2 linked regions of the Homo sapiens genome follow. The protein of the gene in region 2 purifies or fractionates together with the protein of the main gene of each other region. This does not show direct contact. Each region holds a gene or a part of one and is shown on either strand. Other genes may lie near its edges.

What was found. The genes of interacting proteins can lie anywhere in the genome.
Region 1: the proteins of SLC2A8 (region 2) and C2CD2 purify together in Homo sapiens (affinity purification with mass spectrometry; 2 studies listed by BioGRID and IntAct, with this or other methods). This does not show direct contact.

What each region holds. Positions count from the first base shown.
Region 1 is NC_000021.9:41,943,842-41,947,566, reverse strand, and holds part of C2CD2 (C2 domain-containing protein 2), read left to right. Parts: intron 1-3,725.
Region 2 is NC_000009.12:127,395,669-127,399,268, reverse strand, and holds the start of SLC2A8 (solute carrier family 2, facilitated glucose transporter member 8), read right to left. Parts: upstream 2,101-3,600; 5' UTR 2,039-2,100; coding exon 1,983-2,038; intron 1,894-1,982; coding exon 1,731-1,893; coding exon of another isoform or gene 1,365-1,730; coding exon 1,158-1,364; intron 1,098-1,157; exon of another isoform or gene 956-1,097; coding exon of another isoform or gene 935-955; intron 1-934.

The DNA of each region.
Region 1 (3,725 bases), on a different chromosome or scaffold from region 2:
CCTTGCATAACCACAGCTCAATGATCAGAACCAAGAAATTAACATTGGTGGCATGTTACTATGATTCATAACACAAGGAGATTAATGCAATGTAATAGTTCAAGAAATTAGGCCAGGCGCAGTGGCTCACGCCTGTAATCCCAGCACTTTGGGAGACTGAGGCGGGCGGATCACCTGAGGTCAAGAGTTCAAGACCAGCCTGACCAACATGGAGAAACCCCATCTCTACTAAAATTACAAAATTAGCTGGGCGTGGTGGTGCATGCCTATAATCCCAGCTACTCGGGATGCTGAGGCAGGAGAATTGCTTGAACCCAGGAGGCAGAGGTTGCAGTGAGCCGAGATCGCGCCATTGCACTCCAGCCTGGGCAACAAGAGTGAAACTCCGTCTCAAAAAAGAAGGAGAGAGGGAGGGAGGGAGGGAGGGAGAGAGAGAGAGAGAGAGAGAGAGAGAAAAGAGAAAGGAAAGAAAGAAAGAAAAAGAAATTAACATTGTCACAATGCCTAACAACAAAAGCGAAGGCCTTCTTTGAATTTCACCAGTTTTCCACCTGTCTCCTTGTATTGTTCTAGGGTCCCATTAAGGGTACCTGTGGCGTTGAGTTGTTCCTTCTTCATCACCTGCAGTCTGTCAGGGTTTCTCAGTCTTTCTTTGTTTTTTATGACCTTGATAACTAAAGACTGTTGATCATTATTTTGCTGACTGTCTTTCCATTTGCCTGGCATTTTCATATGGTTGGAGCGAGATTACACAAACCACAGAAGTGGTGTGCACTGTGTCTGGGGCTTGTGATGTCAGCGTGTCTTGTTGTAGAGGATGCTGAGCTTGGTGCCTTGGTTAAGGTGACTTCTGCTGGGGTCATCCTCTTGTATTTTATGTCTCCTCCTGTATTAGTCCCTTCTTGCATTGCCAGAAAGAAATGCCAGAAAGACTGGTGGTTTATAAGAAATGAGGTTTAATTGGCTGATGGTTCTGCTGTCCAGGAAGTATAGCAGGTTCTGCTTCTGCGGAGGCCTCAGGAAACTTACAATCCTGGTGGAAGGTGAAGGTCATCTTCTATGACCCAGAGCAGGAGGGGGAGAAAGAGGCGGGAGGTGCTACACACTTTTAAACAACCAGATCTCATGAGAACTCACTCACTGTACAGCACCAAGGGGAGATGGTGCTAGGCCATTCATGAGAACTCCCCGCACCGTGATCCAGTCACCTCCCACCGGGCCCATCTGGTAACACTGGAGATTAAAATTCGACATGAGATTTGGGCAGGGACACAGATCCACATCATGTCACCTCCTTTATCTTTCCTGCTGTAGTTAACAGGTAGTGTGGGGAGATGCTTTGAGCCTGTACAGAGCCCGTTGCTCCTTAAACTCTTCCTCACTGATTTCGCAACCATTGGTGTATCTTGTGTGCAGTGATGGCGCAGGTGCAGTTCTCTTGATGGTGACTTTCTGTTTCCTCTTCCTTACTGTCTTTATTATTTGGAACTCTCCCGCAAGACAGAACTGTCATTTCTCCTCCAATGAGATATTTATCTGATTGTTTAGCTCAATATGGACTCATGGATATGGATTTTATTCTGTGGGTTATAATCCCATACTATCACTATTTATTATATTGTTGTATCAGTCTGTTTTCACACTGCTCTAAAGGACTTCCCTGAGAGTGGGTAATTGATAAAGGAAAGACATTTAATGACTCACAGTTCCACATGGCTGGGGAAGCCTCAGGAAACTTACAATCATGATGGTAGGGAAAGCCGTCACCTTCTTCATAAGGCGGCAGGAGAGGGAAGAAGGAAGGAGGAACTTCCAAACACTTAGAAAAGCATCAGATCTTGTGAGAACTCACTATATGAGAACAGTATGGGAGAGACTGCCCCATGATCCAGTTACCTCCCTCCCTCTGCAGGTGAGGATTACAGGTCCCTCTCTTGACACATGGTGGTTACAAACAGAGCCAAACCGAATCAGTTGCTTAGGTTGTTCTCCTTTGGGCCATCAGGGTGCTCCTTTGAGAGTAGCCTCTTGTGTTCTTCCATCAAGCCCACTTTTTTTTTTTTTCATTTCCTTACTTCATGTTTCCACAAAATATTTGTTTTTGGCTCCCCACAGGCCCTGGATTCAGCCACTTCTTCAAGCAGCCCTGATTCCTTTTATTGGAGAAGTGTTTAGAAACCAAGACCTAGGCATTAAGTGTGTTCATTACCTCTTGGTTCTCATTGCTCCCCTTCAGTGTTCAGCAATAGCAAACATACGTGTGTATACCAACGTGTGTGCGCATGTCTATATTTCTGTGTATTTCTCTCTGTGTTTATCTGAAAAACCGTGATTGTATCCTGTACCTTGGGTTCTAGTCCAACGGTACAGAGTTCATTTTAGTTTTTTCACTTTCTTATTCTTAACTCCCTTCTCCAAGAGTAAGACATTGCACACCTGCTGTCTTATTTACTTACTACTTATGTGTTCAGTTCTAGTATATGCATGAAGTAGTTTCTGAGTTCCCAACCTATGAAACACATTTACTGGATTATAGCATTTATATGCAGTCAAGATGCAGTTTTCCAAGCTTCTTAGGTTATATCCGTGTTTTTCCCATCCCCTTCAGTGTGGTTATATTGTTCATTCGTAGTGCATGTGTTTGTTGGTGCACCAGAGCCACACAGTTTTAATTACGGGGTTTCTATAGTCTGTTTTAATATCTGGTGGAGCTAGTCACCCTTGTCTTCCTTTTTCAGTGTTTTCCTGGCAATTCTTGTGTGTTTCTTTTTCTATGTGGACACAAAGTCTTCCTTTAGTCTAAGTGGAGTGGGGTCTGGAATGAGGGTTCTGTCAGCATTGACACAGCAGCAGAGATGCAGAGATACCTGAATTTGTGGTTGTGTGTGGCAGGCAGGCACACCCTGCTCCTGAAACTCAAGGACTAGGCAGATCAGAAAAGGAAAAGCAATCTCTCTTAATAACTTATTTTCTTTGTGAGACCATCCCTTGACCTTAAGTTTTCCAGCAAACTCTTTTCTTTTCTTTTTTTTTTTTTTTTTTTTTGAGGCAGAGTCTCGCTCTGTCGCCCAGGCTCAAGTGCAGTGGCATGATCTCGGCTCACTGCAAGGTCTGCCTCCCGGGTTCATGCCATTCTCCTGCCTCAGCCTCCCGAGTAGCTGGGATTACAGGCACCTGCCACCACGCCTGGCTAATTTTTTTTGTGTGTGTGTATTTTTAATAGGGACGGGGTTTCACCATGTTAGCCAGGATGGTCTCGATCGCCTGACCTCGTGATCCGTCCGCCTCGGCCTCCCAAAGTGCTGGGGTTACAGGCGTGAGCCGTGGCACCCGGCTGCAAACTCTTTTCAAGGTTTGAATTCAGAAGGTAGCAAGGGAAGAGGGTAAACACTGCATCTGCCGCCTCAGGGGAGCATGAGTCTGCACCCAGGCTGGTATAAGGCAACAGCGTATCTTTAGGCTCCTACAGAAGGTACATTGTTTCTCCGCTGCATCCTCCGAGCGGCTGGCATGTTGCCTGCTCATGGTTCTCTGCCTGGCACTGGCCTCTGTGCTGGGTTCTGTTCTCTCAGGCCAGAGAGCCTGGTGCACAGAACCGTCTCATCACCAAGCTCAGAGCGTGGCCCTGGCCAGCAGGTCCCACTCAAACAAGCTCCCACCACAGAGAATGCCAGCAGAGCAGCCCTGAAACTGTGATTTCAGCCCTCTCGAGCAGTACATTTAAT
Region 2 (3,600 bases):
GTAGGTCTGGACAGGCGAAAGATTCCACCTTGTTAACCAGCTCCACGTGACGCCCACCCAGGATCCTAGCCCAGGGCCCACGCTTTGAGTGGTGGCCTTGGACTAGAAGCACGAACTCTCTGCCTCGGTCACTACCAGTGGCTGCCACTAGCTCCCTCCTGGGCCCACAGGCCACCAGGCCCTCACCCATGCATCTAAGGTTATTCCATAGCTTAGGCCCCTAACACAGGTGTGTTTCTGCCCAGTTAAAAAAACCAAAGACATAAAAGGCCCAGCTTCTTCCCCACCCTCTTCTGGTCCAGCTGCTGCTGCCGGTTAGCAAACGTTGGTGAAATGAGCACCCAGGGAGGGGCCTGAGTGGCTGCTTTCAACCTCACTTGGGGGAGATATTGTCCAAGCCCATGGCTGGGGGCAGTTCATGGGTCACCAAGCTGTCAGGATCCAGTCCTCTACAAGCCATGCCAGGGGCTGTCTATCCAAAGTCCCACTGAATCCTGACCACTACCTCAGGGGCTAATGCCATAATCCCTGTTTTCCAGAGAAGGAAACTGAGGCCCAGGGAGGCACTCTGCTCAGGTTAGTGGCAGAACCAGGATTTGACCCAGATGTTCGGGGCTCCCAAGTGGGCAGCCTGGGTCAGGAGGGGGAAAGGGGGAAGATGGGGAAGCCAGAGGGGCTGGCCTGTGAGAAGGGAAGGGGAACACAGAGGCCAGCAGCCTTTGCCCCAAGAGAAATCAGGACAGGAACTTCCTGCTAATTGCAGTCATTGACCCGAAGCCAGGGATGAAAACCAAAATGTAGGGAGTGGGCTCCTGTGGATCATCCGCAGGTTTGCAGAGCAAAAGAGGGGCACGGCTAAGTGGGACAACCCTGGGTTCCTGCAACTGCTTCCCCTCTGACTAGCTGTGGACCTCGCCTGGGCAAAGGACTTCACCTTTCCGAGACTGCATGTCATGACCTCAGTGTAAAATGGAGAGAACAGTAGGATCCTTCCCAGGGTCGACGGGAGGGACCGCGAGATAACGCAGGGACTTCAAGCCTGGCACCCAGAAGGTCCCGCCAGGGGGAGCCGCGCCCCCAGGCCTGGGGAGCGGTTTGTCCCACTCCCCCTCGGTCTCAGGCCGCGAGACAGGACACTCGAGAGACGGGACACTCACCGGGGCCACTAGGGAGGCAACACCGCAGGCCAGGCCGGTGAGGAGGCGGCCCCCCAGCAGCATCCACACGTCCTGGGCCGCGGTGATGACGGCAAAGCCGGCCACGAAGGGCACGGAGCACAGCAAGAGGCTCAGCTTGCGCCCGGCGCGGTCCACCAGCCAGCCGCCCAGCACTCCCCCCGCCGCGGCACCCAGGGTCACGACAGCCTGGAGGCGGGCGGCTGCTGAGGAGGGGGCGCCGAAGCCGCAGCCCATCCTCCCCCTCCACCCACTCCCCGCGGGCTCAGAGGTAAAAGAGCCGGGGCCCCGCGCCCGTCCCGAGGGGAGGGGTAGGGGGCTGAGGGGCCCGGTGCTCGTCCCGAGGGGAGGGGTGGGGGCTGAGGGGCTCGATGCCCGTCCCGAGGGAAGGGATGGGGGGCAGAGAGGCCCAATGCCTGTCTCGTGGGGAAAGGTGGTGGCGGCGGGGCCCGATGCCTGTCCCGAGGGGAAGGGTGGGGGGCGGAGGGTCCCGATGCCCGTCCCGAGAGGAGGGCGTGGGGTCCCAGGGCGGGAGGAGCGAGCCCGGGGCCTCACCCCGAACCAGGAGGCGGCGGCGTCGTCCAGGCGCGGGGCCGGGGGCGCGGCGCGCTGCAGGCTAGGGATGGCCGGGGAGCTGTAGCCGAGCGCGAAGCCGAAGCTGAGTGGGCCCAGGGCAGCGGCGAAGGCGGCGAGGAAGACGCGGCGGCCGCGGGGCGCGCTGGGGGGACAGGGCCGAGGGTGAGCGGAGCGGACGCGGAGGGGCGGGAGGGCGAGGCCGCATCCGGGCCCGGGTTCCCCGGAGCTCACCTGCCGCCAGGAGGCCCCAGAAGCGGCTGGGTTTCCTCTGGGTCCTCGGGCGTCATGTCGGCGGCCAACGCCGATCGGCCAGCTCTGGCGCCTGAACCGCCACGGGCCCTGCGAGTGCGGCCCGCACCGGCCTCTCGCAGCCAATGGGCGGCGGGGGGTGGGGGACGGTGCTGGGCGGGATCGGAACCGCAGAGCAGGAGCAGCCAATAGGAACGCAAGGCGGGGCTAGCGAATCAGCTAGGACCCGCCCTTCACATTAAAGCAGACCAATGGGAGCATAGAACCGATTAGCGAAGCGCGCTGGAACCGCCCCTAGGGCGGAGCGGTCCAAGGTACAGGTGGGGCGGAGTTTCCGTCTGGGAGAACAACCACCCAATTGGAGTGTAGTGCGAGCCCATAGACGGGGCCAGAGAGCTGCCTCAGAACTGAGCTGGCCAATGAGGTTGGAGGGAGGAGTTTTTTTTCTGGCACCTCCTCTCAATCTGGCTTCAACCAATGAGGGTAGAGGCGGGGCGAAGGCGAAGCACGTGGGCCTCAGCCCGAGACTTCCCGCCCCCAACTCCGAGAAGCTGCACCTGTCCTGCCCGGTCGGGTCTGCAGTTCCTGCTCCGCTTTAATCGCTGCCCTGGGGACTGTATTGGAGGCGTCTGACCTATGCCTGGGCCCAGCTCTGCAGGGGAGAGAGCCTCTAAGCAGACCGTCCTGGGCCGCCTCTCTCTCCTCTCGGAGGGCGAGACTGGTCAGACGCTCCCGCTGGGCTGCTGGCGGCGGAGGCGTGGCCCTGTGCACCGAAACCCACTTTCATGCTTCCCAGATTGCTGAAGGCTCGGGTCTCCAGGTGCTGAGGACCAGTGGTAGGTGGGGTCCCCCACGCCGTATGTGTGACAGATCTGGGCTCCACTCCCCCTCTTAAGTGTCACTCACTTCACAGGGAGTCCTGACTCTTGAATCTTCATCTACCTGCCTCCATATTTTGAGTTCCCTGTGGATTTTAATGCCACCTTCTCCCGTGTGCACCCAAGTCGAATGATGAGGCACTGTTGGATCTCACCAGTTGTACCCGATTCATACCCAACACTCTGGGTGCAGGCAGCTGTGGTGGAATGCTGGTGTAATTCTGGAAAGAGCCAGGGCATGGGAGTAAGAGGCTTGGCTTGTAATCCCTCTCTGGGCCTTGTGTTTCCTCATCTCTAAGTGGGGATGACCATTATCTTCCAGGAGAGTTGTGAAGCAAGGTAATGTATATAAGACATGTGAAGCACTCAAAGGCTAACCGGTATGATGAAGACAGTCATCTGATATGTTGCAGTCACTTGATGGTTCTAGCAACCAACATTTTTCAGTCCTGACCACAAGCCTATCCTTAAAGACTTAGGCAACTGCCCTTCTGTACTCCCACAGCATCTAATGCTTGATAACTCGAGCACTAGATGTGTATTCTTATCACAGCATTTATCACTGCTTTGTGATCCCTTGTTTACTTCCGTCCTTCCCCCAATGGACATGACCTCCTCTGGAGAGGAGGCACTTGGTGTGTGCAGAGTGGATCAATGCCTCCAACTCCATAGGCAGACACTGCAGTTAGATGATTTTCTGTGTGACTCAGCCAGTCGGGTAC